7 separate regions of the Homo sapiens genome follow, and regions 1, 2, 3, 5, 6 and 7 are each linked to region 4. Evidence: fine-mapped expression QTL. A gene starts in region 4. Each other region holds a variant in brackets. All regions are shown on one strand. Distances are between the middles of the regions.

What was found. PIP is the estimated chance that this variant, and not a neighbour inherited with it, causes the effect. A credible set is the group of variants that fine-mapping cannot tell apart.
Region 1: its variant is the best candidate, but not a certain one, in a credible set for the expression of OSBPL6 in putamen (GTEx, PIP 0.85).
Region 2: its variant is the best candidate, but not a certain one, in a credible set for the expression of OSBPL6 in whole blood (TOPMed, PIP 0.81).
Region 3: its variant is the best candidate, but not a certain one, in a credible set for the expression of OSBPL6 in sigmoid colon (GTEx, PIP 0.85).
Region 5: its variant is the best candidate, but not a certain one, in a credible set for the expression of OSBPL6 in cerebral cortex (GTEx, PIP 0.58).
Region 6: its variant is the best candidate, but not a certain one, in a credible set for the expression of OSBPL6 in lung (TOPMed, PIP 0.67).
Region 7: its variant is the best candidate, but not a certain one, in a credible set for the expression of OSBPL6 in tibial nerve (GTEx, PIP 0.55).

What each region holds. Positions count from the first base shown.
Region 1 is chr2:178,492,553-178,497,020 of GRCh38, forward strand. It overlaps PLEKHA3 (pleckstrin homology domain containing A3), which reads left to right. Exons shown (of 8, transcript NM_019091.4): 4 at 1,301-1,437; 5 at 2,944-3,108. Among named protein-coding and RNA genes, the nearest start is that of PLEKHA3, 14 kb to the left of the region's middle. The variant ACT/A (reference allele first, on the strand shown) is at 1,942.
Region 2 is chr2:178,231,912-178,236,379 of GRCh38, forward strand. All of the region lies in intron 1 of OSBPL6 (oxysterol binding protein like 6), which reads left to right. Among named protein-coding and RNA genes, the nearest start is that of OSBPL6, 40 kb to the left of the region's middle. The variant A/G (reference allele first, on the strand shown) is at 2,607.
Region 3 is chr2:178,288,458-178,292,925 of GRCh38, forward strand. The region is part of intron 2 of OSBPL6 (oxysterol binding protein like 6); the gene reads left to right. Among named protein-coding and RNA genes, the nearest start is that of OSBPL6, 96 kb to the left of the region's middle. The variant C/T (reference allele first, on the strand shown) is at 1,879.
Region 4 is chr2:178,192,334-178,196,558 of GRCh38, forward strand. It overlaps OSBPL6 (oxysterol binding protein like 6), which reads left to right and starts at 2,179. Exons shown (of 25, transcript NM_032523.4): 1 at 2,179-2,341. RefSeq lists silencers at 1,733-2,422, 2,869-3,163.
Region 5 is chr2:178,622,093-178,626,560 of GRCh38, forward strand. TTN (titin) reads right to left here. Exons shown (of 363, transcript NM_001267550.2): 241 at 3,181-3,304; 242 at 2,373-2,639; 243 at 578-675. Among named protein-coding and RNA genes, the nearest start is that of TTN-AS1, 100 kb to the left of the region's middle. RefSeq lists an enhancer at 1-157. The variant C/T (reference allele first, on the strand shown) is at 1,917.
Region 6 is chr2:178,321,001-178,325,000 of GRCh38, forward strand. It overlaps OSBPL6 (oxysterol binding protein like 6), which reads left to right. Exons shown (of 25, transcript NM_032523.4): 4 at 3,177-3,269. Among named protein-coding and RNA genes, the nearest start is that of CHROMR, 91 kb to the right of the region's middle. The variant T/C (reference allele first, on the strand shown) is at 2,324.
Region 7 is chr2:178,155,838-178,160,305 of GRCh38, forward strand. No RefSeq gene overlaps it. Among named protein-coding and RNA genes, the nearest start is that of OSBPL6, 36 kb to the right of the region's middle. The variant C/G (reference allele first, on the strand shown) is at 1,755.

The sequences.
Region 1 (4,468 bases), 300 kb after region 4:
CATGGCACATGTATACATATGTAACTAACCTGCACATTGTGCACATGTACCCTAAAACTTAAAGTATAATAATGATTAAAAAAAAAAAAAAGCTAATCACAGAAGGACATATAGTCTATGATTCCACTTATATGAAATACCCAGGGCAGTCATACTTATACAGACAGAAAATAGAATGTTGGTTTCCAGGGCCCAGGGGGAGGTGGAAACAGGGTTAGTGTTTAGTGGGTACAGACCTTCAGCTGGGGAAGATGAAGACGTTCTGGAGATGGATGGTGGTGATGATTTTACAAATACGAATGTACTTAATGGCACATTTTGAAGTGAATACTTAAAAGTGGTTAAAATAGTAAATTTTATGTTTATGTATACTTTACCACAGTTTTTTTTAAAAAGGAGAAAGAATAGGCTTAAATATGAGCAGGAATTGATTTAGGTTAGATTAAATGCGCAGATAGAGCTGCTTTGTCCATTCTGGCAAAAGTGGCTTTGTGGCTAGGACCAGAGAGCAAGACCACTGGGGCCTGGCCCAGGGAGTGTGGAGAAGCACCAGAAATTTACTCTATGAATTTTCCTCCTCTGTAGCTTATACTTCTAGTTTAAAAGGTATTGGCTTGTGAGTGGCTGAGATTATGGCTGGATGTTTAGTTTGTCTGGACATACTAAGGAAGAAAGTATGCTCTTAATAAAAAATTTTGAAAATAGTATAATGTGAGAATGAAACTGAAAGAAACAGAAGAAAATAAATGAATGTTTATAAACAATAGTTTTAATTACATAAAAATTTAAAACTTCTGTAAGCCAAAATAAAGAAAACTGAAAGGAAGCTAACAGATCTGGATAAGGTATTTGCAGTATATAAGATAGAGGAAAGATTACTATCTTTAATTTGTAAGAACTTTTACAAACTATCAGTTTATATTGTTAAGAGAAAAACCAACATCAGAACTGGAAAAAATGTATAAAGGACAAAATAAAAAAGCAATTCACAAAAGAAAACCAAGCACTTTTTAAATGGAAGATGAGTAATGGAATGGAAATATCCTGTATAAAACATCCAGTGGTCATCATCCTATCTCTGGAAATCACCTAAACATGGCAGGCATATAACTGTCAGCTTTTTCCCAATTATCTGAAGAGAAGATGTTTCCTTAGGGCTCTTGTATCCTGTTTCCAAGGTCTCACATTTCTTGAGCTATAGGTATTTATATTCATTGCTTTTTTAAATGATTACATTTTGTTACATTGCTCAAAGAATATGAAAATGATCTAACTGTATATTTATGTATATTCTTTTCAGAAATAAGTGAAACCAGTGAATCGCTGAAAACCAAAATGTCTGAACTTCGCCTCTACTGTGACCTCTTAATGCAGCAAGTTCATACAATACAGGAATTTGTTCACCATGATGAGAATCATTCATCTCCTAGTGCAGAGGTAGAGCGAAGAGGATCTCTTCACGTGTGGTTATGCTTTGGAGTACTCTGGGGGGATCCTCAGTCATTCCATAAGATGACAGGCATTTTCACATTGAGTTATTTTCAGCTTTTCTGGGTTCTGCCTACTGTATACTATCTGGAAATCTGTAGCATCTTCTCGATTGTGTCTGTGTGGCCAGAGAAGAACATGAAGTAGCATATTTCTCCAGGGGTCAAGGCTTGTCTTTGCAGCCAGTCTGATAATTTGGAGGTTGGAGTGGGGAAGAAGCATTCCAGGCTTTGTTCTCCAGGCTAGCGGCATAAATTCACTGGACAGCTGCTATTCTCTTTTTTTGGTAATAAGGTCCCTGCTTCAACTATGAGAGTTGATAACTTATCTTTATGAAATAACTTAAAACAAATCCTTCTCAGAACAGTGACTTAGGAATCAAAACTCAGATTAGTAGGATCGGGCTATAATAGGCTCATTCTTCATGGTAAAATAGGACCAGTGAGCTATACC[ACT/A]CTCTGGGTGAAAGGCCAGCATGTTGCCTGTCCCTTTTTGCCTAACTTGGTAGAAGTGGGGCAAGAAATCTTCCTATTTCTTCTGTGGCCTTCTCCTGTTGGGGAGGAATCTTGTGTAAGAAGCCCAAGGACAAACTGACCACAAGCTCCCTGGAGGTAGTTGACCTCACACTTGCTACAGCAGCTCAGTGACAGTATTAGGGACCCAGGCTTGTTCCATCCTTCCACTCTGCCATTCTTGGTGTGTTGAGTTTTTCTCCTAATGCCCCAGGTGTCAAGATGACTGTCAAGCTCACAAAGAGGCAGGAGGCAGTGGGGTTGCCAGGGTAGAGAGAGTCCTTCTCAACTTGCTGTGCTTGGTTTTGAATCGGGAAACAAAAATCCCAGAAATTCCCTAGCCAACTTCTCATCTTTTTTTTTTTTTTTTTTTTCCGGCTCAAAGGAAACTAGGAAAAAATGAGCATTTAGTAAAGAGTGTTGGAATAGCCATGACTAGGTTAGATCAGTCTCTATTCATCCCCCAGGATCAGGGCACTTTGCGATCCTGAACAAAATTGGGCTTTTTACTCTATCAAGGAAGAAGTGGGAGAATGGATAGAGGGTAGGCATGAATTGTACTGCCACTAATTAACTCTAAGGGTATTCCATGTCTGTGTCCACTTTTGGGAAAGTGAAAATTACTGTTTAGGTTAGATTTCTCTAAGATAAACTTTTGTACACAGTTTTTCAATATGATAATTAAATGCAAAGCTTATTTTTTCTTAGAATCTAGTTTCATACATTGTTTAGGAGACAGGCATTTCTTATACATAGATGTTTTAATGTTTTCTTTTTTCTTTTTTTGCCCCAGCTTAATTTTCTAAGGTACTGTATTTTAAATAAATTTGAACATAACATAGTAATGTGTCTGTTGGAGATGTCTTATTATTTAATGATAAGGTTGTATATGATTCCATGTAGTTGTATGCAAATCTGTTCAAGTCTTTGTGTAATTTTTCAGAACATGAATGAAGCCTCTTCTCTGCTTAGTGCCACGTGTAACACATTCATCACAACGCTTGAGGAATGTGTGAAGATAGCCAATGCCAAGTTTAAACCTGAGATGTTTCAACTGCACCATCCGGATCCCTTAGTTTCTCCTGTGTCACCTTCTCCTGTTCAAATGGTTTGAACTTCTTGTTTTGGTTTTTTCCCTCAGTAGTAATGTTGCATGTGGTTTTCGTTTCATTTTGGTATTTATTTTTAAGGGTGGAAGCAGGCAGTTGGGGGGCGGGGAACAGCTAACAAGTTGAATTTTTTTGTTTGTACTGTTTCATATTCGAGCTTCTTAGCTGATGAGCTGAGCACTTGTGCTAGTGTCCTCATTCCCTTCTCCTTGGAGGGGCTGTGCATGGCCTGCCCACAGGCTGCTTCATCCATTTTCCCCAGTGTCTAGGAAAATATTACAAAGTGCTGTGACAAAGAAAAAGTTGGGGAGCTCTATTCTGCTTGGTAAGAATTACACAATGGAATGAGATTTTAGTCACAATGGGGTACAATTACGTATATCTTTAAAGGAGTTAGAAGGAATTTGAAACATATTCCGGTGGGAACGGTATTCTCTACTAAGCATTTGGATCTGAACCCTCAGAGTAGCTGATCTTCAGTTTCTTCATGTGTAAAAATACAGTGTATATCAGAGAGTCACTGCAAACGATCTGACCTGCTTACTGTTAGGTGCTCAGTGTTAGTTTCTTACTTCCTTATTGCTCAGAACAAGTCCTCTTTTTGCCAGGGGTGGCAGATTCGTTGTCCTTTCTGAGCTAATAAATTTGCTCTAGCATGCTGTTAGAAATTTGTAGGTGAGATAAGCTTTAATGAGACTTCAAGTTTATTGCATCAAAGTGTTTTTAGGAGTCCATTTATAGGAGTAAGAATGCCACCTTGTTGCTGTTTCAGCAATTACCTGAAGATCTATTTGTTAGGAGAATAGGGTCTAACTTCTTCCTAGGTTCTCTTACCTATCCCAGCAAATTTAGTTATGAGATTTAGTAAAGATTATTGCCTAGATTTATTTAGAGAATTGTTTTCTAATCAGTATTTGATGGGCTAATAGTTTCCTCTGAGGCAAGCGTACCATGAAAATGAGTTTTATGGCCAGATTAATTTGGGAATTGCTAGGTTAACTTAAATGATATGAATTGGGTTTGATGGGACTTGTCACAGCCTTTTTACTTATTTATTTATTTATTTTTTTAGAGACAGGGTCTCACTCTGTTACCCAGGCTGGAGTGCAGTGACACCATCATAACTCACTGCAGCCTCAAACTCCCAAGTTCCAGCCTCCTGAGTAGCTGGGACTACAGGTGCACACCACGGTGCCTGGCTATGTTTTTTAATTTATTATTTGTAGAGATGGGGGGGGTCTCATTTTGTTGCCCAAGCTGGTCTCAAACTCCTGGCTTCAAGCTAAGTTTTTAAATTTATTTTTTGTAGAGATGGAGTCTCATTTTGTTGCCCAGGCTGGTCTCAAACTCCTAGCTTCA
Region 2 (4,468 bases), 40 kb after region 4:
CTCTGCAAATCTATTAAGCAAATTTATAAACTTAAACACGGTTAATTCTTGTTGAAATTTCCATGTCTTTGATAATCATCTTAGGGGTTCTTAAACTGTACTCCTATGCCATAGAAACTAGACACAGGTGTTTTGCTGCTCAGATCCATAAACTGGGTAAAACAATAATATCTTTTCTCACTTAGCCAAAATAATATTATAGCTTTCCTCTATTTGAAGCTTTTCCTATACATTTTTCTTAAACATTTGCTATATTTTGCTGCTTATTCTAGAATCTGGTCTAAGATAATGAAGATATATTTTTATAACATCTTAAAGGTATATTTTAACTTTAAATTTAATATATCAATTATTGCTTTTTTTCTTTTTTGACCCTCATCCTCTGACTCTCAAATTATGTTTCTCATGAGTACCTTGACTTCCAGGAAGTAAACAAGTTTGGAAATTACTAATCCCAGAGACATAGGGCACCAAGGTTAAAGAGAGGGGAAGGCTCTGGACTCAAAAGTGCTTGTCCCAGCTGTGGTTCAACCAGCAGCATGATCTTGGATAAGCTATTGAACCTATCTGAGCCTCAATTTCTTCATATGTAAGATGGGATAATAGAACCTGTACTATAAGGTAGTCGTGATGGCTAAATCAAAAGGTGAGTAGAACACTGTCACACTTCACAAAATAATCATTAGCTGCTATTATTATTCCTTTATAGAGGAGGAAACAGTTACCTAGCTCATTACTCTTAGCATTTAAGTAACATGTTACATTTTGCTTATTGTTTTTACTGTCTTGAAATCACATGCTGTTTTTTTTTTTCTTATTACCAGAATATTGAGGTTTCTACTCAGCCCAGTACTTTATTCTGGTAACAGCTCCCAATTGGTCTTTCAAAAGCAGTACCCCAGAAATATCCCTCGCAGTACCTTTCCATTCTGTGTAGTGGGGGTAGGACCTGTTACTGGGCCTCAGATGTACTCGTGTATACGCTGAACTCCTGTCTCTGAGAAACACTTCAGAATAACTCAGAACACCTGACTCTTTTAAAACTTTCAGATAATTTGTAATTGCAACCGACACTGGATATCAAGCAATTATACAAAGCTAATTCCTGATGGCCTGAGTAGAAACACCCCATGGTGTACTGCCTAGATGGTAATTATTTTTGTAATATTGGGAACTTTACATTCTTATTTTCTACTTGTTACAATTCTTCAAGTACCTTCAAAACAGCTGATTCAAGAAACCTGTTCGATATTCTGAGGGCAGAAATGGGAAGTGGAGTTTTTTCAGGCTTGGATAGGTTTGGAATTTGCTTCTTCCCCTTTAAAAAAGAATCCTTGAATTTGCTTCAGAAATGAAATACACAGTAAAGGTGAAGTTAGAAATCGGGTGGCAACCAACTTCCAATGCTGAATATCTAATTCCTGCGAACCAGCCTTGCTCTCTGAAAACTGTGGCCATTTTCATGGGTTTTACTTGGCCTTATTTTATTATGGCTGCATCCTCTGTGTTTGCTGAGGCTTCTCAACCATCTGAGAGTAGGACCCCTTCATTTCTGGCAGTTCTGCTTTCAATGCTATTTCATCCAGAATTACTGGGGATATTATTACTTTAGTCATTGAAATGTTTAGTGTCAGATTAAAAATCTCATCAGACGTCAGTGTCTTTGATTTCACTCACATGACTCAGAGCATCATCCTGGGGATCCCTCAGCCTCTGGAAATGTTAAGGAGGTGATGACACATGGGCAGGGAGGGAGATTTCAGTCGATGTTCAGTACCTGGAGGCTGAACTTTGGCATCAGAAGGGATCTGGCCATGGACAGGCTATTTAATCTCACTATTTTTTGAGTCTTTAGTGACAGTACCCACCTCATGCGTTGTTGTGAATGTTAAGCTGATCTACTTAGGATGATGAGCTTAGCACAGTATCTGGCACATGATAATTCTTCTATAAGCACTAGTAATTATCATTAGTAATATTATTCACAGTAGACACAATTCTAGAGACACTGAAAATACTCTTGCCTCATGCTTTACATATTGAGACAGTAATAGTTCTCTAGTGGCAGTTTTTTTTTCTCAAGAGTTGAATAATTTACTTTATTCAGCTATTTAATAATACTAATCATATAGTCTTAAAGACTGAATGTTCACTCAGTATTACATTAATAGGAAGAAAATGGAAATATTTTCATAACAGTTCTTAATGCTAATTACCATATATGTCTGAAGTCATATCATTTACTCAATTTCTATGGTACCTGTCATAATAATACTTTAGAAAATGAAATAGTAATAATAATGACAACAACATCAACTTTTGCAGTTGAATCTGAATGAATATGGAGTTGGAGAGAATATCTGTCCAATTCAGGTTGTCATCATTAAATATTTCACAGGTTGTGAGTTGCCAACCTTTGCTGGACTTAAGCCCTTTAGAATAAAATGTATTTCAGGCCGCAGTATAACCTACCGGCTTGTTACCAGTGAGAGAGAGAGAGAGACAGAGAGAGAGAGTCATTTTTAAAAAATACTTTTTGTTTTAAGATAATTATAGATTCACAGGAAGTTGCCCAAAAATGTACAGGGAGGTACTGTGTACATTTC[A/G]CTGTTTCCCCCAAAGGTAACATCTTACAAAACTATAGTACAGTATCAAAACCCTGACATAGACATTAGTACAATCCACAGAGCTTATTCAAATATGTAAACATTTTCTCCCCGTCTGTAACTGGTCTTTTCATCCTCTTCATGGGATCTTTTGTAGAGCAAAGGTTTTTAATTTTGGTAAGGTCCAATTTATCCATTTTTCCTTTTATGATCTAGGGTAGTTTTTCTCAAAGGCTTTTCCAGACAGTACCTGCTTTTGGAATCATTTGTAGTACCTATTACGAAACCCATTTGCTTGGGCCCCACACCAAACACTCTGAATCAGATTCAAGGAATGGAGTCTGGTAGTCATTTAAGAAGCTCCCTAAAACCTGGGAACCACTGTTTCAGAGAGATTGGCCTTGGGTCCTTTTTCTTCTTGTTCTGCCTTGTCTGTGAATCATGCCACTCACTCTTACCACCTTATCAAATATGTTTGGATAACTTCTAAATTTATCTTGTTAACCTCTGTGATGAGCTCCAGAATAGGTACTTTGCCGGATACTCTTCTGTTATACAAAGAACATACTTAATAAATGGGTTATTTGTTAGGTATTACTTTTCTGGATCCCTTTGAACAGTATGCAGTAGAATATATATAACAAAAACCTTCCCAGTTAATGTTCATAAATTGTCAAAGAGGCAAGACATTGGTCCTGATGCATGAATTACTTAATTATAGAATACTTTGGTGGAGGGGTTGAGTTATACATATATAATCTTGGGGTTAATGGTTTTTTTGTGGTCTTATTTGTATCTCTTCTTCCTTTCATTGAAACAGATATTTTTATACAATTTCTTTTTTTTTTCCTTTTTCTTTCTTTCCTTTTTCTTTTCTTTTCTTTTTTTTTTTTTTTTTTTTTTTTTTGAGACAAAGTCTCGCTGTGTCACCCAGGCTGGAGTGCGGTGGTGCAATCCTGGCTCACTGCAACCTCTGCCTCCTGGGTTCAAGCAATTCTCCTGCCTCAGCCTCCCGAGTAGCTGGGACTACAGGCATGTGCCACTACGCCCGGCTAATTTTTTGTATTTTTAGAAGAGATGGGGTTTCATCATGTTAGCCAGGATGGACTCAATCTTCTGACCTCGTGATCTGCCTGCCTTGGCCTCCCAAAGTGCTGGGATTATAGGCGTGAGCCACTGCACCTGGCATTTTATACAATTTCTATTTGGAAAAAGATGCACAGTGCTTGATAAGTATCAATATGCCTATGGCTTAACAATCTAATTTTTAGATGGTTTGGTTCCTCTTTTTAAAATTTTCAAGTATTTTTCATTAGCATAAAGAACTATTCCTTGGGTGTCTTTAATGAAAAATGACCTTTTCATAGCTGGATATTTTATTTGATGTTGGAATGTAATCAGAATATGAAAATGTCAATTTTTGTTTTATTTTTACGTTAGATTCAGGAGGTACATGTGCAGGCTTGTTACATGGGTTCAATTTTTAAATGTCTCAATTTTATATCACTTGTTTTAACAAGTTAGACTTTTTTTTTACAAGTTGTATTCTCATTTTATATGTTCTCTGCAACCATTGCTTCTGTTTAATCCTTGTTTCTAGTTGCTACAGTCTCTTAAAAATTAAATTATCCCTTTAAGATGATAGAACATGCTTATGCTAAAGGTAGCAGCTAAAATGATGATGAAATACTCTTATATCTTAATCCTGAAAAAAAAATTATAAGTTTAGTGAGTAGTGCTTAATGATGTTTTTGTCTTAGTTCAATTAATTAGAGTTCAGTAGCCAAGAAAAGAAAGCTAATTTTGCCTTGGATGTAAAGTTTGGATTTCACTTTTTACCACAGTGGAGTGGTCAAAGAATT
Region 3 (4,468 bases), 96 kb after region 4:
AGGTTTTAGAAAAATGAGTCGCCCAAACACCTGAAAGATTTAGACCAGTTCTGAAAAATAAATTGTACCTTGAATACATATCCAGTAAAAGTATGTATAACTGTATAAGTAACTAAGTGGGGGAAAAAAAGGAGTATACTGTTCATATCAAGGTTTTCATATATAAATAGTAGGGAAAAGGGACTTTTTTTTTTTTTTTAAATTTTTTGAGAGGGAGTTTCGCTCTTGTTGCCTAGGCTGGAATGCAGTGGCGCGATCTCAGCTCACTACAACCTCTGCCTCCCGAGTTCATGTGATTCTCCTGCCTCAGCCTCCCAAGTAGTTGGGATTACAGGCGCCCGCCACCACGCCCAGCTAATTTTTTATATTTTCAGTAGACACGGGGTTTCACCATGTTGGCCAGGCTGGTCTTGAACTCCTGACCTCAAGTGATCCACCCGCCTTGGCCTCCTGAAGTGCTGGGATTACAGGTGTGAGCCACCGTGCCCGGCCAGGGACGTTTTTTCTTTATTAAGACTTTTTTCTTCTGTTGATTTTTGTTTTCTTTTTCTTTTTCTTCTTTTTTTTTTTTTTTTTTTGAGACAGAGTCTCGCTCTGTCACCTAGGCTGGAGTAGAGTGGTGCAATATTGGCTCCCTGCAACCTCTGCCTTCTGGGCTTAAGCGATTCTCCTGGCTCACCCTCCCGAGTAGCTGGGACTACAGATGCGTGCCACCACACCCAGCTAATTTTTGTATTTTTAGTAGAGATGGGGTTTCACCATATTGGCCAGGCTGGTCTCAAAGTCGTGACCTCATGATCCACCCGCCTCGGCCTCCCAGAGTGCTGGGATTACAGGCGTGAGCTACTGTGCCCAGCCAGTTTTTGTTTTCTATATTTTAAAAATACATTTCATTTGAAAAAATTTCAAACTTAGGCTTTTGTATAAGAATAGCATAATGAACAACCATACGCACACACTCAGATTCATCTATCTCCTTCTCCATTTATCAGAAGTCATTAGAAGTAGACATCATGTCATATCCACCCCTGCATTTTCCAGTAGGCATATTTTAATATGCACATTTTCCTACAGAACCATATTGCCATGTCACACCTAACAATATGAATGATACTTCTTTGGTATCATTTACTACTCATTCCATATTCAAATTTCCCTGATTGTCTCAAAATTCTCTTTTAATAGTTGGTTTATTTGAACCAGATCTGAAGAAGTGCATACATTTCATTTGGCTATTGAGTCTCATAAAACTCTTATCTAGAATATTCCCTTTCTTTTCTCAAGTCATTCACTTGTTGAAGTTAAGCCACTTTGGGAATAGAACTTTCCACATACTAGGTTTGGCTGATTGTTGTTACTTAACTTTTTTCTCTATTACTCAGATTTACTAGAACTTGGAAGTTAGATCAAGAGGCTTGATTGGATTCAGATCTAACTATTCTGGCAAGAATTCTGCTTCCTTTTGCTGTGTACTTTACGTAGTGCCACCTCAGGAGGCACATATGGTCTAGTTACCCCACTTTTAGTGATGCTGTCATTGGACCGTGTTTCGGGGAAGAACATCCTGATCCCCCTGTTCTAAAGTTACCCCATCCGTTTTTTTCACTTCATGATTTTGTCAGCCAATAATCATTGCCTGAATACATTATGTCATTAGGGGTTATAAAAATGGTGACCCCCACCCCATCCTATTATTCCTTCTACATTTGTTAGCTGTCATTCTTTTATAAAGAACTTCCATCATCAACTAGTATTTGGTGGCCCTGAAATACAGTTCATATAGGAAGGGCAGGGTGATTGCTTAATATTTCCCTAGTAATTGACAATATCAGAGTTGGTGCTATAGTTTCTTCAAAAGGTGATATTTCTGCTTTTTAG[C/T]GAGAAACTTCCCTTTTTTCTTGAGAATCATTGTAAATTCAAGGATTTAAAAAAATATTTGTTATGTTTCACATACTTAATTGTAGTGGTTTTTTTTTTTTTTTTTCATTTTGATGCTCAAACAAAACCTTCTTTGTTCATTATGAGCCCTTTCAACCTGGCTCCTGTGTATACGTATAGAAAAGAGAACCTATCATATGTGAATCACAGTGAATTTGCACATACTGGACACACCTATATAATCAGCACCCAGACCAAGATACAGAACATCCCCAAAGCATCCCTGGTCCTATTAATTTCTTTGACTCTACTTTTTGATACAACAGGTTGCCCCAAATTCTTTTTGTGCATTCCATACCCCAGTCTAAGAATCAGCCATTCTAAGCAGCCTGGTTCTTTTTAATAGGAAACAGAATTTAGAAACTATAGTCAGGCACTAGGGGTGCTCATTTCCATGGGTTGTCAGTGTTTCCATGCCTTTTCAGGAAACAAGGTGGGAAATACATGTGTCCAAAAAGAAAAAAAAAATGATGAGTTCATGCTGATTTTCCTGAGTTAACTTTATGGAGTCTTAATTTTTTAATTTTATATTTGTATCTTTTTTCTTTTACATTGAAACCATTGGTTCAAAACAGCATTATAAATGTATTTACTTTATCCTTTGGGCACACAAAATAGTTTCAAATTAATAATTTCAGCATGAAAACTACTAATTATTGTTATATTTTTATGTAGAGAAAATCTTACAGAATAAAGAGTTAACTATGAGGTGTTTTTTTTTTTACCTTTTATTATCACTATTATTTTTAGTCATTCAAAATTTCTGTATGAAGACAGAAGATGAATTTTTCTCCCCAACTCCATTTTTAGTATTAATGTTGATATGTTTCTTGGCAGTGATATTCAGTCTATTAAATCTTTAGTTCACCAGATTATCTGAGTTATTTGCAACTCACTGCATCATACGCAGGTGTTCCAGGAGTGACAGTGGGATGATTGTACATTTTGGATGGTAGATCAGTGTGTGCCATATTGAATGGCTTTGTTAGTGTCCACTGTTCATCATCATGCAGGTCCAGAAACAAAGGAAAGATAAACACTCTAAATAAAGCAGAGAGACTGAAGGTGTTCCAGTGTTTTTATTTTATTGCTTCTTCTTTTTATTGCTTCCTTTTATTTGATAAATGGATACTTACGGTACTTGTTTTGGAATGGTTTTCTCTTCTTTGGTTTGTCAAGTGACCAAGTGCATTGTTTCCTGGACACATTTTGTTATATCTGACCCGTGGAGAATGTTAGTGTTCATAGAAAATATAGGAACAGGTAGTCTCTTCCTTCCTTCCTTCCTTCCTTCCTTCCTTCCTTCCTTCTTTCCTCCCTCCCTCCCTCCCTCCTTCCTTTCTTTCCTTCCTTCCTCCCTTTTTCCTTTCCTCCTTCCCTGTTTTCCTTCCTGCCTGCCATCCATCCATCCATCCATCCATCCATCCATCCATTCATCCTTGATGTCTTTTTCCTACAACCAGTTAATTCCTTGAACCTGAATCTCAGAGGTAGGCAATGGAAGGGAAGATGGAGATCTAGACCATTCCCCCTTTTGTCTTTTAAACTTTCATTTTTGACTTTTATTTTAGGTTCAGGGGTACATATACAGGTTTTTTATATAGGTAAACTCATGTCATGGGGGTTTGTTGTACAGATTATTTCATCACCCAGATTAAGCCTAGTACCCCTTAGTCATTTTTCCTGATCCTCTCCCTCCTCCTCCCATCCCCCACCCTCCAGTAAACTTTTTTTTCCCCGAAACTCAATGATTGGTACAGGACCTTCCAGTAAACTTTTAACCCGTCTTCTCAAAATATCTTGTTCCCAAATGACCATAAAATTGAAATCCAACATTTGTGAATTATTTTTCAAATATGTTTTACATACAGAAGAATGATTAATATTTTAATAAGTCTAACTTTGATGGTAATTTAAAATTTTACTTTATTCACTTTGCATATCAAATGATTAATGACAGGAACTACTGTTGCAGTGAACCAACAACACAAATCTCCTTTGAAAGGTTTGGCTTTCCAAGCAACAATTCTAAACTTTGCTCTTGGAAGAAATGACTACAAAGATGAAGGAAAAACACACACGCTCCCCAAAACTTCAACTGTATATGGCTGGTGCTAGTTATTTAAAGGTTTAACGTTTTAGAACTAAGAGTCATCTAAATAGATGTCTTTTATCATGTGTCTTACATCATCCCCTCTATATCTCAAGTGTTTGGTCATTCAGACAGGCTTTAATTCATCCATCCATCCATTCATTCATCCAGCAAAGTCTATTGAGTGTCCACTCAGTATCCTCCAGGCACTGTTATGGGCCCTGGGGTTATAACAAGGAGAGCAGGAAACAAGACAGATGAGGTCTCTGGAGACAGACAGTAAGCCAGTACACAGATAATATAAATACTGCGTGAGATAAGAGCTATGAAGGAAATGAAAAGAGTATTGTTCTAGAAAGTGACAAGGTGTGTGCCTATTCTGAGGTAACACTTGATCTGAGAACTGCAGGGTGATTTGCTGACTTTTTCATGTTTAGA
Region 4 (4,225 bases):
TATTCATATTTACATATCTATGCCAGTCTGAGTTTTCAAGATACACTGATGCACCAATAGGGTGGAGAAACTGCCTTGATCTCTAGTTCCGCACAGCCCGCTGTGTTTAATCCACCCATTTCCCCAGATGGATGCGTGTAGTACCGTTACCTCTTATTTGACCATTAATCAATGAGATGGGGGGAGACTTTTTTCCCCTGATGTTTAAAGCCATTTTTTAAAACTATTAAAACACACATAGATACTATGGAATAGAGTGAAAAGCGTGAGAACATTCTTACACTAAAACGTGAGATTTAGGTTGTGGTAGTCCCCTCTCTTTCCCCATAGTTTATGGTTCTCTGCTATTAGGGGTTCAGAGAAAAAATTAGATAACCTCTTCTTTTTCTTTCTTTTTTTTTTTTTTTGAGAGTCTCACTTTGTAGCCCAGGCTGGAGTGCAGTGGCACGATCTCAGCTCACTGCATCCTTTGCCTCCCAGGAAGTTGAGATTTCAGGAAGTTCAAGCGATTCTTGTGCCTCAGCCTCCCGGGAAGTTGAGATTTCAGGTGCCTGCCACCACACCCTGCTAGTTTTTGTATTTTTAGTAGAGACGGGGTTTCACCATGTTGGTCAGGCTGGTCTCCAACTCCTGACCTCAAGTGATCCGCCCGCCTTGGCCTCCCAAAGTGCGGGAATTAAAGGCGTGAGCCACCGCGCCGGGCCTAGAGAACTTCTTTAGGTAAAGATTCTGTGTGCTGTGTGTACTCTCATTTCCGTTCACACTTTTGTATTTCTTTTTAAATACATGGGTTTTAGCTTTTTTTCTTTTAAGGGAGAAAGCCATTTCAGTAGAGTTTCTGTTAATGGAACTCAGAAGGAGTAAGTAGAAAGGGTGGCTGTGATGAAGCAGAGGTCAGCATCCCAGCTGCTCCCTTGAGGAGCCTGTCTTCACAGCAAAGGAATGAAGGACAAACTGCCATTGTCGCAGGGTCCCGCATCTATTATTTTGTGACCAGAGGACATGAGAACATTGCTAGTCTAGATGGAAAAAGCTAATCCAACAGGTGAGATTGGAGATTCAAGAGAAACTGCATGTGGGAAGGAGTGCATAAAGTCGACTATGTTTCATAGCAAATCATTTTGTCAGCACAGGGCACAATGAAATGCCATCACAGTTGCCTCATTAGTAAGCAATATCTTCCATTTTTGAAGGCACCCCAGCATGTTCTGTAATAGCTCCCATTAAGTCCAGTCGATGTCCTCTGGACTCCCCCTCCGCCTCCCACCCCCAGATGATGATGACACAAATGTCTTGAAATATTGACATGTCCGCAGTCACTCGTTTACAGAATGTCTGTACAAATATTTACATTACCCCGTCCCTCCCAGCAAATTTGCCTTTAGATTAATCTGCACACCGAACGCAGGCCGGGAGTGGCTTGGAGTGTGGAAGGGTTTAAGGGTGTGGAAGGGTTGTAGTGAGGCGGGACTGACTGACTTTGATCGGCTTTGCCAGGGGCTTGAAGGAACCGGCTCTTCCTTTCGCAGAACCCAGGTGTTTCTCTGGGCCCGGGAAGTTTTTGCTCCCGAGCGAGTCAGGGACGGGAGCAGGCACGCACAGTCGCGTAAGTGTATGAAATGACGACCTCAGAAGGGCGCCCAGGGACATGGGTTTGGCAGCCCCGAGCGGAGGCCGCCAGGCAGCCGTTCCTTTCGGAATTCGGTCTCCCGCAGTGCTCCCGGCTGCGGCGCTCCTGGGCCGAGCGCTGGAGCCGTTCTGGGCAACCCTCCCGAGCGCGGCCGGCTCACCTCCGCCGGACTGCGCGGGGCGAGGGCTCCGCTACTGCGCGCAGGCCCGCGGATGGCAACTCGGGGTTTCCACTGCGGGTGATCTCGGGACACCACGGGTTCCCACGGAGGCCGGGCCAGGGGAGAGCCCTGGCTGTGGGACCCCGCGTGACCAGGGCGCAGGGCGCCGGGTCCTTAGCCCATCTGGCGGCGCAGGGAGGGGCGCCCGGTAGGGCGGGTGCGCAGCATGAGCCCCAGCCGCTTGCCGCTCCACTCCAGCCGGGCGGACGGGCGGGAGCCGGGGGCGGGGAACCCGGAGCGCCGCCCCGCCAGCGCGCCCCGCCCGTGGGAGAGGAGGGGCTGCAGCGCAGCGGACCACTGGAGGCGCAGCACGGTCGCCGCCGCCGCTGTCGGTGCTGGAGATCGCGGCTCGGTGCAGGCGGCGCCCATGCCTCCTCTCCTCCACTAGCCCGCGCGCCAGTCCGCCTGCCGGGGCCGGCTCTCCGCCTCCTGCCTCCCGTCGCAGCCGCGCAGCCGCCGCAGAGTCCGCGGCGCCACCGCTCGCCCTCCAGGTAGGTGTCCTAGCTGCAAAGGGATTGCTTGGGGCGGGCGCCAAGGTGCCCGCATCGCGGCCCGGGGGCATTGTGCGCCTCCGGCGGGCCGAGGACCCCGAGGGACGCGTGGGTGGGCAGCCGCAGCTTCGGGTCCCCAGGACATCGCCGTCCCCCTGGAGGCGCCCCCGGCCGATAGCCCGGGCTACAGGGAAGTGGGGGCGGCGGTGTCAGCCCATTCTCGCGGCCGGGATGGGAGGGGGCGTCTGTATCGCGGTCCCGGTTTGCCGCCCTCCCTCCCCCTCGTTGCCAGGGAATTCCGGCCGCCTGCCACTAGCGCTCGCATTCCCTCGCGCGGGCCGGCGCCCCTGCTCCCCGCAGGCTGCCTGGGGATTGAAGCAGGGGCAGGGAGAAGGACTGATGTAATTGTCAGCGGAAAACCGAACCGGCGCGGGTGAGAGCGCCCGCGCCCGCGAGAGCTAACGCCTACGCCGCACCTTTCAGGGAATCGGGGAAGCCGAGAGGAGCGGCTGGGGAAGTTGTGCATTGGGTTTTATTGTGCGCGTGCACTGCGGACTGCCCTCGCGGGGCACCCCTGCCCACCCGCTGCTGGCGCCCCTGCAGCCCTCCCGGCAGCCTCCGTCCACTCCCCCGGCCAGGGCCAAGTCTGCCTTCCCTGGTTCAGACCGGGACAGCGTTTGCATTGCAGTCAAGACGTGCTTCCCCTGCATCAAGCCGGGAGCTGCCCGCAGATCGTGTCGCCGGGGATGCTGGGGGAGGAGGGAATGGGAGACCTGAGGAGAAAGCCTGGAGAAGTAATGACACAAGCGGATTTTCTCCCCAAAGCTTCTGCTGCGTATAGACACATCTGCAAGGCACCTTTTAAGCTGTTTTTGAAAGTTATAACCAGATACTGATTTTGTGACAATTCTATGATATACCTGAACGGTTGCTTAAACATAGAGACCTAAAGCTAGGGGAAGCATTACATAATGGACATGAAGCAAATGACACGAAACTAAGTGAACCCACTGGGTTGCCAGATTATTTCTCTCTTCTGGACACAAAATCCTGTAAGGTTTTTTCTATAGGAACTTTCATTTTTAAATTGCTGGGCTAAGTTTAGCCAATTGTCTATTATATTCAGTTGTGATTTTTTTTTTCTAAATAATTTTCTTGGACATCTTTTCTTAAATTTAAAAATTGCATACTAATGGTTACATATCACTAAGCTGATTAGGAAATGTAGTCTTCACAAGGTAAAAATAAGAAATTTCCCATCTTAATACATTAACTTTGTTTTCCTCTTGTTTTGTTTTTGTTTCTTTTCCTTCTTTCATCCTTCCCCCCGCCCCCAACCCCCGCTTTATTTTTTGGAAACATTTCTACAGTTTTGGGTACTGCAAGCTCACAACGTTGATATTTCTATCACATGCTACAGCATTGCGGAGACAAAGACTAATAATAAATGAAACAGAAGACCTCGCAGTAACTCTGAGAGTTAGCAGGGTTCCCAAGGTCGAAGGGAAGCTGCAGTGTAATTCAGCAATAATCACCTACAGAGAATATGCATAGCCCTCATTGGGAAAGGCCCTGATTGGTGGATTTTATTATTATTATTCTTTTGCAGTAGGAGTTCATATATTTTTTCCCTAAAAAATAATTTTTCTTAAGGTAAAAATGAAATATTTTGAAATTAAAATTTCAGGCTTTTAGAAAGCCTAAAAATTCTGGTTTTGCTCATATTTTTGGATGCAATGTTGATAACGCCATTATACATTCAGTGGATGGATTACCTTTGGCGGTACCTCAGTTTCAGATTACTATGACTTGTCAGGTGACTCTTGGCTTTAGTATGAGGTAGTTCTGCTGGACTTTTATAGGATCACATATGTAAGTTTTCTT
Region 5 (4,468 bases), 430 kb after region 4:
TCTGAAAGCAACCAACAAGACTTCATAGTGTGAAGAAGAACCAAGGTGGCAGACACAAATATAAACAAACCCCAAAAGCAAGAACAATCTTACCAATTACTGTTAAGTTAGCTGCTGTGATACTATTATCAGTTATTAAAAACAATGGGATCATATAAGTTTAGAGCTATAGTGAGCCTTAGACATTATGCAGACTAACTTCTTGGATGTGTAAACTAAGGCTCAGACTTGAAGAAACTTGCCAATGGTAGTTAATAGCAACAGGAGGTACTTAGTTGAAAGAAATATAATTGCTGATATTTGACTTTCTGATCTAAGAAAACAGCACTTTCATATGGTTCAAACTAATATCTAAATCTCCTGATTGTGAGTCCAGTGTTTTTCAAGTAATAGTAAATTAATAATACTAAAAAGAGAGCAATTAAAGTCAAGAATACATTTTATACTACAATTATCTTTAAAAGTAAAGTGGTGACCAGAGAAGTTGTGACTAACTTTTTTTTTTCCATTTTGGCTAGACCAAAAGTAAATATAAAGTTATTTGACAGTACAAGATGACAGGTATACAGTCACAGACCTTAGCATTTTCTCGGGAAAGTTCACACTCAAATCGAGCCATTTCTTTTTCTCTAACTTGAAGGTCGGTGAGTGGTCTTAAGAATTCCACATGAGGAGCTGTAAGAGAATGTCATCAGAATTCAAAATGAGGTTTCTGGAAATTTACTCTGACATTACCATAGTATACATTAAGAAAAAGTGACTCTTTTTTAGGGATTTTCCATCTTAATAGACTACAACTGACTTTGAAATCACTTGAAGCTGCCCATCAGGTATGATGCTTTGCTTTTTAGATATCTCTTTAGTTTACATAAAATTATGTGGCATTCTATATGTTCAACTAGTGTGCATGTGTGTGTGTACAGTATATATACTAGGGAGCCATCTCAGTTCTTTTGAATAATAGCTGGAGGAAAAATCTTCATTTGCACTGCACCAGACTTGAAAGATAATGTCAAAGGAAACTTCAGACACCAGTGGCAAAGAAACATTGTCTTATTTAAGGCACTTAGCACAATCTTTGAGAAATTAGCAGAATTCAAAGATAGAACACGTGAAGCACTATGGCCAGCCTTGTGTATGGCTAAGAGGCATGAGGCTGTAATTGAAACATACATTTAGCTTTTTAAAAAAATCAGCTTTGAAGACGTCACATATAAGTCAGGCATAACATCTATTAGTGCAATAAAGCAATGTGTTTTGTATGGGAGGGTGATTAGGATTTTACATCTGTTATTTCATTCATCTGTAGAATTAATTCAGCTGGTGTATAGGATTAGGGAGCTGCCCCCTTGCCCTTCCTTCTTTCAGAGCTCCCTGTGAGTCCTTCCCAAGATGACCATTCTTGAGCAATAAGATTCTGAGACAAATGCTGTCTAATAGGTTTGAAAATATGCTCCTTGCAGCTGAGCCTTCTTGGAGTGAAGGTAGATGTCAAGGTGAAGAAGGAGACCCAAGAAGCTACTTTGACATAAGCTTGAGCAGAGCAACCACAAAGTGGTAAGAAAAACATGGTACAAGATGCATGAAGCACAGAGTCACTAGGTTGTAGCTGTTGACAGATGGGAAGCAACCAAACCAAACAAACAAATATTGCACAAAAAATTTGCAGAAAAATGTCATCACTGGACAAAGGAATGAATGAAACAAATAAGCTAGTATGTGGCATTTTGAAAAAAGACATTACATTTTTCACCAGAGGAAGAAGTAATGTTAAAAACCATTAGAGTTCTCTTCATTCAAAGAGTCCAGGACTCAAAAGATCCAGGGCCTCACTCCATCTTCTTATCCATTCTTATTCTCAGAGATTGAATCATGTGAATGTGCTTTGTCATATTACAGCAGATCTCTAGTATGCT[C/T]CTATTCAGACTGAAATTTCATGCTCATTTTCTAGTTGTTCCCCACACCTGAAAATTCATTTTCCTTCCACATGGAAATCACTTTTACTTTGTTTTTAAAATTAGGACTCCCTACTTATCTTTAAAATTCAGTTTCTCCTCATCCATATCAGGATATCCATACAGTAGGCTGACCCCATGTAGACAAAGAGCACATCTACTCACTACTCAGTGAGAGAAAAGAAGCATAGGGAAAAGTGATTGCTCCATCATTAATCAGACCAGACATAGAATAAGACTTTTCTTTTCTTTTTTTCTTTAAACACATAAAGGATCAGGTTAGGTCAGTGTCAATACTAGAAGTTGCCAAGAAATGCAGTTAGGCCAAGAAGGGCATGCAAAAAGTGTTGTGTTGTTTTGTTGTTGTAGTTATTAAAGAATTGCAAATGAAAAGTCCTTTGTAAGAAGAATACTTACGCACGACATTCAGGTTACAGGAAGTCTTAAAATCCTTAGCATCACAAGTGTATGTTTTAATATCCTCTGGGGTACAGTCATGTATAACAAGTTTTCTGACCCTGCCATCAGCAACAATTTCATACTTCTTGCTTTTGAGGATTTCTGTCCCATTTTTGAACCATTTCACCTTAGCATTTTCTCTGGAGACTTCACACTCCAGCACTGCAGTGGCTCCCTCTTCGACCGTCTGGTCCTCAAGAGGCTTAGTGAATTCAACTGGGGGTTCTGAAAGAATCATACTCATTAGCCAAGGTACTCCTTTCCTTCTCCAAGAGTTTTGGTACCTTCTCAACTTTCCCCTGCCATCTCCAGGGCTTTGTTCTGTCCTAAGTTTTATTTTCAAGTTTTGATTACACTCAGACATTTTCCTCTAAAAATGATATTTTATCATTATTTGTACAGACAAGAGGAAAATCATTTTTAAAAACTAGGAAACATTAAGGAAATAACAGCCAACTCTTGGTTAATAAAGTGATGGATACCTAGCTTGATAATAATTCTTCCTCCAGCTGGCTTTTGAAAATCTAGGATGTGCAATAAAAACAATAGAGATGGAAGGAGGAAGTAAAACCTATGCTAGTCAATTTTGGCTCTTTAAAAAGATAGTCTGTGAATTATTTTGTTATGCTAAAAAGTAAAATCAGACTTTTGATTATTTGGTTGATTTTAAACATCTATAGTACTCATCATATAAAGATAATTGAGAGTTGGCATTGTTCATGAGCCTCTGCCTTATACATGTTTTTAAAATAAGCCTTGTAATTACCTTTCACAAAGAGGTTGGCGTGAGTTTTGAAATCTTTTGCTGTTAGTTGGACTTCCCCAGCATCTTCTAACTTTACATCCCTCAGAGTAAGTGTATGAACTTTTCCTTCTGAACGTGGGACCACCTAGTTGTTTTTAAAAAAAGAATACATGAAACAGCAATCTAGTATATGGGTGCATTTAATTCATTTAGATAAAAATAAATGGAAATAGAGCTTTCCAAGTTGTTTTATAATCATCTATTTAGCACGTATGCATTCAAAAATCATTTCAACCAATAGTTTGGGATCTTTTTTTTAAATTTATTTATTATTATTATACTTTAAGTTTTAGGGTACATGTGCACAATGTGCAGGTTAGTTACATATGTATACATGTGCCATGCTGGTGCCCTGCACCCACTAACTCATCATCTAGCATTGGGTATAAGGACTATAAATCATGCTGCTGTAAAGACACATGCACACGTATGTTTATTGTGGCATTATTCACAATAGCAAAGACTTGGAACCAACCCAAATGTCCAACAATGATAGACCGGATTAAGAAAATGTGGCACATATACACCATGGAATACTATGCAGTTTGGGATCTTTCAAGAAAATTTTAGGGTTTCATAGTTACCTTTATATAATTACTAGGTGGCCTTTCACATTGAAATTGCCCAGGCCAGTTTCTGTTTACATTTGTGGTCTTTTTTGCATATGCGTAGATATACAGCACATATAGTATATACGTATATGTGTATATATATGTGTGCCCCCATTCTGCCCCTGGGCTTATATACATATAAAGGAAGAACTTAGAAAAGCGAATTCATGAAAGGATGAAAGAAAATATCAGCTATGGCAAGCTAAAAGTAAACCTTATGTTCTGTATGTAAGGTGTTTGCCATGCAACAACAAGCTATAACTCTTCTTCCCATTTATTTTAGCAATTAAACTTATTTTGCAAACCAATTAAACCTGTGATTAAATAATTTGTACAACCTATTAATTTTGTTCAAAACTGCAAATGAAAGTTGGACTCTTCTTCCTTTTTCATGTGTCTAAGCATCAGGAATGGGAAAATCAGATGTCAATGGTGCGACAGATAGGGGTCATTCTGACAGCAAAGATAAGAGACTTGGGGGTTCTTCCAGTTCTATGATATAAAATTCCTAAGAAGCTGTGCCCTGTCATCCAGACTGATTTTGCACTGCTTAAGAGTTTACTTAGCGTTAAAAATAATGTAAAGTTTTTCACCAGTGGAACTATTTGTTATGCTAGTGTAAAGAAAAGAATCAGAAA
Region 6 (4,000 bases), 130 kb after region 4:
TACAACCGGGCGTGGTGGCACGCACCTGTAATCCCAACTACTCTGGAGGCTGAGGCAGGAGAATCTCTTGAACCCGGGAGGCGGAGGTTGTAGTGAGCTGAGATTGTGTCACTGCACTCCAGCCTGGCGATGGAGCAAGACTCTGTCTCAAAAATAATAATAATAATTCCAAGATAAAGCTGGAAGGTAATTGATTGCTGAAGGACTGTTCTCTGCAAATTAGCACTAAAAAATTCCACACATTTTTGACTGGCTTCAGTGTGCAGATTGTTGTGCTAGGATGGGGTGGATTACGGGTAGAGAAGATGGAATTCCAGGATGAAGATGAGCTTGTCCCCACCTTCAAGGAGCACTCAATCTAGCTAGAGGCCAGGACTGGGTATGGTCAGTTTAAACTGTCTTCTTTATAGCTGCTGGTGTAAAAAAATACAACATTCAATTACTTAGATATTTCATTTAAAATAACAAATTGCTTGGTATATAATTACATAACTTTAGGGTTATGCTTTTTTTAAAACCATGAGTTTGGAGAAAATTCAAGGTAGTGGATTAATTTTTTATTATTGAATAGACAATGATAGGTTCTAGACTCGTGAGTTTCTACAAGAGCTGTTGGCTTCTTCATTGTCATCCTGGAGGTTACATGGAATAGCTTATTTTTTGAAGCTAGTTACAATTACAATAATGGGTAGCAGCTGGTAGTTTTCTAAATTGTCCTTTAACTTTTTCAGTAACAAATACATACATTAGTGATAATAAAAATATTCATTTACTTGCTATGTCTCACTAAATGTTTTTTATGATTCTCTGGGCTTTGACAAATCAACAGAATTTAGGGTTTAGATATATTGTGCTATATTTGAAGTGATTGAACTTCTTATTTTTCTTCCATAATATAAACTGTTTTGTAACATCAAATGGAGAAGAGACTAATATTGTTTTCTTTGTGCTAGGTACTGTGGTAGGTATTTTACAGTTGTGGGTCCTGGTTTGTGTGGTTGCTAACTAACCCTTCTGACCCACATAATTCTGGCAACATCTTAAGTATCCCCTCGTATCTATACAGGAAAAATTTATTTCCATCACACTTCAAATATACCACATTGATTTCTATATCTATGGCTTGACTTGGAAGTTAGGGGATTTAATTTCCTTTCCCTAGCTTAGTTACTTTATTTCCTGCCTACATAGTTACTAAGGTCAAGTTTCTTTCCAGGTTTTGTTTTTCTTACCACGTTTTTTTGGAGGTGGGGGAAACAGTTGGTGATGTATCTGTGTTTTATTGCCCAGCAACCTGAAAGGATGGGGATCGGGGAGAGTCGTTAAAGAGAAGCTCAGATCAGAGATACCTGACTGGAAGATTAAAGTAAGCAAAAGCAGTAGCCACATGAAACAAGGTTAATATGTGGGCTTACAAAGAAGTCCTAACCATGATTTGGTCTTTTGTATGATAAGAACTCTTTCTAGAATATAAGCATCATAAGAGTAGTTCTCTTGTCTGTTTTGTTCTCTGTGGCCCTGTCATCTGTGCCTGGCAAAGTGTAGGTGCCTAATAATGACATGTTGATAAATTGAACTATGAATGAATAAATAACGTATTTCACTGGTAGTTTCTGGTCTTGTACTTTATTATATTTATTTGAATGAAGTTTTTTGTTGATATTCTATTAAATAGTGAGGGAGAAACTTGCTACTAAAGTGTGTAATTTCTAAATGGTTATTTCAAAAATTACGTTGGAAACTTCTTTTCCTATGGAAAATTATCTCAAAGTATAAGGTAATTTATTTGTTGGTGGGGGAAGCATTTTATATCTCTGTAATACAGTGACACTTGTATCTTTGATCTTTACAGTGACACTCGTATCTTTGATCTTTATTAGCCATGGTTCTTTTTTAGAAAAATCACCTCATGCATTTAAAAAAAAAAAAAAAAAACCTTTAAAAAAAATCTTTGTAGTCTTTACAGTAGGGAAGTTTCGCTCTCATGTATTTGAAGAGTGCATGAAACAAGATTTGTTTCCTTCTTTTATGCTTTCATAATGTGCCAAGATAGTGAAGTATTCTTAATGAGTAGATTTATGTAATTTAGGTTAAGGCATGTACTTTTTTTCCCCCGCAAGGGCTTTAATATAATTGCAAAATTCCGCTTTAGAAAGATCATATCTAATTTATATTTTCTTTCTTCCAACCCCACTTCATTCTTGAATCTGATGGGTAAAAGAAATTATTATTTTGATTCTCTTTTTGAATACTTCTAAGTTAGAACATCTTTTCAAATGTTTTACATGTGTTAACTATTCGTGTACTTCACCCATTTTTCTGT[T/C]GAAATTTTATCTTGCTAATATATAAATGCTCTTTGTAAAAGACACCTACCGTTTATGGTATTTGGTGAATTGTTTTCTTCTCTGTGCGTTTTTGTAAGAAACTTTAGAGACTGAAGGGTGTGAAGGCTCTGGATTTTTATTTATTTATTTATTTTTGTGATGGAGTTTCCTTCTTGTTGCCCAGGCTAGAGTGCATTGTGCAATCTTGGCTCACTGCAACCTCCGTCTCCCAGGTTCAAGCGATTCTCTTGCTTCAGCTTCCCAAGTAGCTGGAATTGCAGGCTTCCATCACCATGCCGGGCTAATTTTTGTATTTTTAATAGAGACAGGGTTTCACCAAGTTGGCCAGGCTGGTCTCAAACTCCTGACCTCAAGTGATCCGTCTGCCCCAGCCTCCCAAAGTGCTGAGATTACAAGCATGAGCCACCATGCCTGGCCGCCACTGGATTTTTTAAGGTAGACCTTTCTTTTTGTCTGTTGCTATTCCCAGTTGGAGAGATGAGCAAATATTTCTATGTAAGCCTGATTAGTCTAAGTAGAAGGTGTGTCTTTGTCATAAAGTTGTAAGTTTTCTTGTGTGTATCATAAAATTTTTCGAGAGATATTCCTCTGACTCTCCAAGACTGAAACCGGCACTGCAGCAGCAGTTCAGCAGCAAATCTAGAAGAGGAGGGGAAAATCCTGTGCCGACATATTTTTCTGTCTGTTGCTGCTATCTTTGGTCTTTTCAGGAACTTGCCATTTTTAACATAGCTCACTGTTTTGACTGTGTTGTGTATGATTTCATCCCCATGCACATTCACATGAAAAGTGAGTTGTCTAACCCTGGGCTATGTTTTCATTTATTTTCAGAGTATTCACATACTGGAGAGGACTGCTTCCTCTAGCACCGAGCCCTCTGTAAGTCGGCAATTGCTAGAACCGGAGCCAGTCCCCCTCTCCAAGGTCAGTGATGAAATGCGGTGCTTTCTCTGCTGGCATGATGCCTGCTCTGGGGCCAATTGAACTGTGAATAACGTTTACACCTGACTCCCCTAAAATACTTGTGATGCCACTTGTAGGCAACTCTTTGCACTTTTTCTGCTTCCAAGGAGTAGAGTTTCTCTGCCCTTTATAAGAGAGAACAGAGAATGTATACTTTGCTGGGATTTGTAGGGTTACATTCAAAGGTCCAAAATTCTGTTTAAGGGAAGAAGGAAAAAGAAGCTATTGCCTTCCCTGTTGGAGATAAACAAATATTTCTATGCCCAGCTAATGGAAAAGAAAAAAAACTGCATCCAGCAATAAAAATAATAACAGCTACCATTATTGCCCATGTACTGCATCACCGGACACTATGAGAAGTATTTAAATCTATTATCCCATTTAATATAGTTCTCATAAACAGCTCCACACAGTGTAGGTATTTATCACATTTTACAAATATGGAAACTGAGAGTTAATAACTTGCCCATAGTAAAAACATAAATAAATAAGTAAATAAGCTATCAAGGATTATAGCAGAGCAAGAATTCAAACTTAGACTTGTCCAACTCCACAACCAATGCTTGTCAGCTCTTCCCAAGCTGCAAGGTAAAATAGAACCTATGCGGAGGGACTGTTGTATATTCTGGCTTCTAGGCTCCTTCTCACATCTGGCCTTCCTAGCAATGAGCTCGTGAGAGAACACTGCAGAT
Region 7 (4,468 bases), 36 kb before region 4:
AGGTCCCTCCCACAACACATGGGAATTATGGAACCTACAAGATGAGATTTGGGTGGGGACACAGAGCCAAACCATATCAACAACATAGCAAGAACCTGTCTCTACAAAAATAATTTTTTAGAAATTAGACAGGTGTGGTAGTGCATACCTGTAGTCCCTGCTACTCAGAAGGCTAAAGTGAGAGGATTGCTTGAACCCAGGAGGTTCAAGGCTGCAGTGAGCTATGCTGGAGCCACTGTACGCCAGCCTGGGTAACAAAGAGGGACTGTGTCTCCAAAAATAAAAAATAACAGAGCTCAGAGAAATGGCTGATTTCAGGATTAGGGCAGAGGAAATACAAGATTAACCTGGAACATCTTACTAGGCTAGAAAGTAAGAAGTGCCCCCCAAAATTGTGCAAGCATCAAGTCAAAATGACTCAGAAGTCAGCTTGAAGGGTACACCACTAGATAAATCTGGAACAATTTGAGCATCAAAGTAAATAATAGTAATAAATTGATTAAAGCATAAATCTATGAGTTCAGTCATATAAATAAATAAATAAATTGATACTTAGTGGAGAATGAGATATTTACATAGCCTCAAAGTATGTCCTGCAAAATATTTATGAATAAAAAAAGGGAAATGAGGTTAATTTATAATAGAGGAGCCTAGAAGATACCATTTTAATCAGATAATCAAAGTGAACATCTCAGTAATAAAACAAATTGAAAATGTAGACCCTCTGATAGAATGCAATGAGAACACAGCATTGCTTCGGTGAGATTCTTGCCAAAGAAGCATAACCTTATCATAAGATAATATCAGACAAAGCTAAACTGGGGAACATTATAAAAATTAATGACCTATAATCTTCTAAAGTGTCAGGGTCCTGAAAGTCAAGGAAAGACAGGAATGGTTCCAGATTGAAGACAACTAAAGAGATGAACTAAATGCAGTACTTGATTTTGGACTGGATTATTTTATTATAAATTACATTGGAACATTTGACAAAACTTGAACATGGTCTAAGGATTAGATCATAGCAATGTGCTGATGTTAACTCCCTGATCTTGAGTAACTGTGTTCTGGTTAAATAGGAGAATATCCTTGTCTATAGGAAAATATACACTAAAGTATAGGGGTAATACAGCATCAGGTCAGCAACTTACTCTCAAACTGTTCAAGTAACAAAAGTTCTTTGTCCTCTTTCTGTAAGTTTTCTGTATGTTTAACATGGCTTCAAAATGCAAATTGTTCTTCACAAAAATGCAAAACTAAACGTACATTAAGTTACAGCAGACTCTCACAGATATTTGTCACATAATGCCATTTTCCTTGGTCACAGGTTTAGCTACAGAACGATATCTTGCCAGTCTTTCACATGAGAAAAACTAGTTATCGAAGACAATTGTCTATAAAAACTTTAATAATACCATATTTATTTTTTTGTTGGGAAGGGGGACAATTTGCAAGACAGAACAAGGATATTCATTTATTAAACAAATTTTATTAAACATACATTAAGTTTTGTGGTAGGTACAAGTTTTCTTTCTGTGGTGGTCACTGTGATGCACTGCTCAGATTCCCCCTTCAGGACTCAAGGTTTTATTCCCCAAGCAGCAAGGAATGCTGTGGACAAGGCAGCCCTCAGCTGTCAGTTCCTTTCAGGAATTTCCTCAGTTGAAGAGAGATTCCTTGCCTAAGGTGACAGTCCCTTTCTGGGGTGGTCTACATCCAATCACTGGTCAATGCAGAGGTATAAAGGCCTAGCC[C/G]TGTTGCCCCAATTCAAGGCATCTTTGATAGGTCATCCCTGCTTCAGAACATCCCAGAGGGCTAAGGGTTTCATTGAGAATCCATCAATCCATCACGGCTCCACTTCTCCCTCTGCCAGTCCCTTCCGTTTCCTTGCCTTTCCTGTCCTAGGTGATGATCCTTGGAGCATGCCTAATGAACCTCCTGCCTGCTCATCTCTGACTCACAGTCTGCCTCTCCGAAAGCCTACCTGTGCCATCTCGGTAACTGGTTTCTCTCTGGAGTTACAAAGGACTATTATTTTTCAACTTTCTGACTATTAAATACGGCTATAATTTATAACATTAAAATTTTATGAGCTTCTCTTTGCCTGCTCCACTTTCCCTCTCTTGATCAAACAGCATGAAGTGGAAAGATATAGACGCTGAGAATGGGAACAGAAAAAGCCTAAGAGGAAGCCAGAGTCTGTCTTGGGAAGGCAAGTTAAGGTGTAGGACAAGTTTGTCTGGTCCACCACCCTTTTCTTTGCTATTTTCTCCCTCTTTCAACCCCTGCCTCCTAGTGATCCCTGTGTTCCATGCATTCATATTGCATGGCTCCTCCCTTCTCAGAAGAGTAACTCATCCCTACTGGAGCTGACTTGCCTTACTTAGTCAATTCCAGCTTCTATAACAGACTACAATAAACTGGGCAGCTTCAACAATAGATATTTATTTCTCACAGTTCTGGAGCCTGGGAAGTCCAAGATAAAAGTGCTGGCAGATCTAGTGTCTAGAGAGGACACACTTCCTGGTTTGCAGATGGCCATCTTCTCCACGTATCCTCCTATGGCAGGGAGCAGAGAAAGAAGAGGAAGGGGATGTGGGGAAACAGAAAAAGAGAGAACAAGCTCTTCTCCTTAAAAAGGCACTAATCCTGCTCCACCCTCAGGACCTAATTACTTCCCAAAGACCCCACCTCCAAATACTATCACTTTGGGGGTTAGGATTTCACCATATGAGTTTTTCAGGGGACATAAACATTTAGTTCATAACAGGATGTAATGTATCATTCTCCTTAAAGAGTTTGCAGTAGAAAGAAACTTTTTTTTTCTTTTTTTAAGGCTTATTCCATTCAAAACATACCCAGAGATTGGTGGAAGGAAGATAATGAATCTGTTGGCATTAGTAAGATAGATGGTTTTGGTACTCTCCTGAATCATCCATGTAGGCAGTTGTCTTCTTCATTTACACATCAATTGAAGTTCTCTTATAATAAGTCCTTGGGGGAAATATCTGGGAAAAGCTAGTATTTGGAACTATTCCTATTTGAAAAATTGCTATAAATCCTTTACCCCAGGCATTAGCAGATTAAATCATTTTTTGCAGAAACAGACTGAGATTTAATTCTTATGACACAAATTAGCTCTGTTTTGTTTGTTAACATCTATTTTTATCAGACCATAGGCAATAGAAATCAACGTTTAAGTTAAGAAAACTGTATCTGTAGGGATGTCAGATTTAAAATTCTGCCTAATTAGGTAGTCCTGGATATTACTAATTTTTTTTTGCTTTTTCAAGTAATATAAGTGTGATATGCTATCAGTATTATGAAACAAACACCCTTTTTCCATTTTTTCCTTCTACTGAGAAAAATATTTTTTAAATGTTACAGCTTAATGCTTCAGGATCTTGTCTAAACAGAAACATTAAGCATGTTGATTTGTGTTTTCCTAATTATCTCCTTTCTATTTTTAAAGTTGGCCCTTTATCAGGCATTTTTCAGTCTTTCCACACGTGCCCTTGTTTTTTGACAAGATGTCAAAGTGATAGCAAATGGTTCCACCATGGTAAGGAGCTTCCTGTGTGCTGTTGATGAGCTGAGATGGCGCACTGCACTGTACCCTGAATAACAGAGCAAGACTCCATCTCAAAACAACAAAAAACAAACAAACAAACAAACAGAATGCAATTCATTCAGATAAAGAGACTTAGAAACCACAGATCAATTTTGGCCTGTACAGGTGACTAAATTGCCTTTCAGAAAGGTTGTACCAGATGATATTCCCATAGCAGTGTATAAGAGTAGCTGTTTTCATGTCTTCGCTAACACTGAATTTTATAATTATTCACAATCTTTGGTGAATGACAAAAAAACCCACAATATTTCATTTGTCCCAATTAAAAATTATTTATTGCATTTCCTCATTATGTAACTCAGTAATGTTCATTACAGAAAAATAGCAAATCAAAGATTTTAAAAAGTAACCATAACACAAAGGCCAACAGATAATCAGCATTAACACATTCTTTGTATACATAGACATTCTCTGTTATGACTTTTACTTTTGATGTCATGCTTACATTTGATATATTTTTACCTAGATTTTCTTCTAATGATTATAAAAATGTATTTAATTTAATCTAAAAATTTTTAATTGAAAATCATACTAACATAAAATTCACCATCTTAACTATTTTTAAGTGTACAGTTCAGTAGTGTTAAGGATATTCACACGGTTGTGCAACCAATCTCCACAACCTCTGTCTTACAAAAATGAAACTCTATGTCCATTAAACAAAAATTCCCTATTTCCCTCTCACTCCAGCCCTCAACCACTACCCTTCTACTTTCTGTTTCTATGAACCTGACTACTCTATATATTTCATATGTAAGTGATATAAGTGGAATCATACAGTGTCTGTCTGTTTGTGATTGGCTTATTTCACATAGCATAATGTCCTCAAGGTTCATT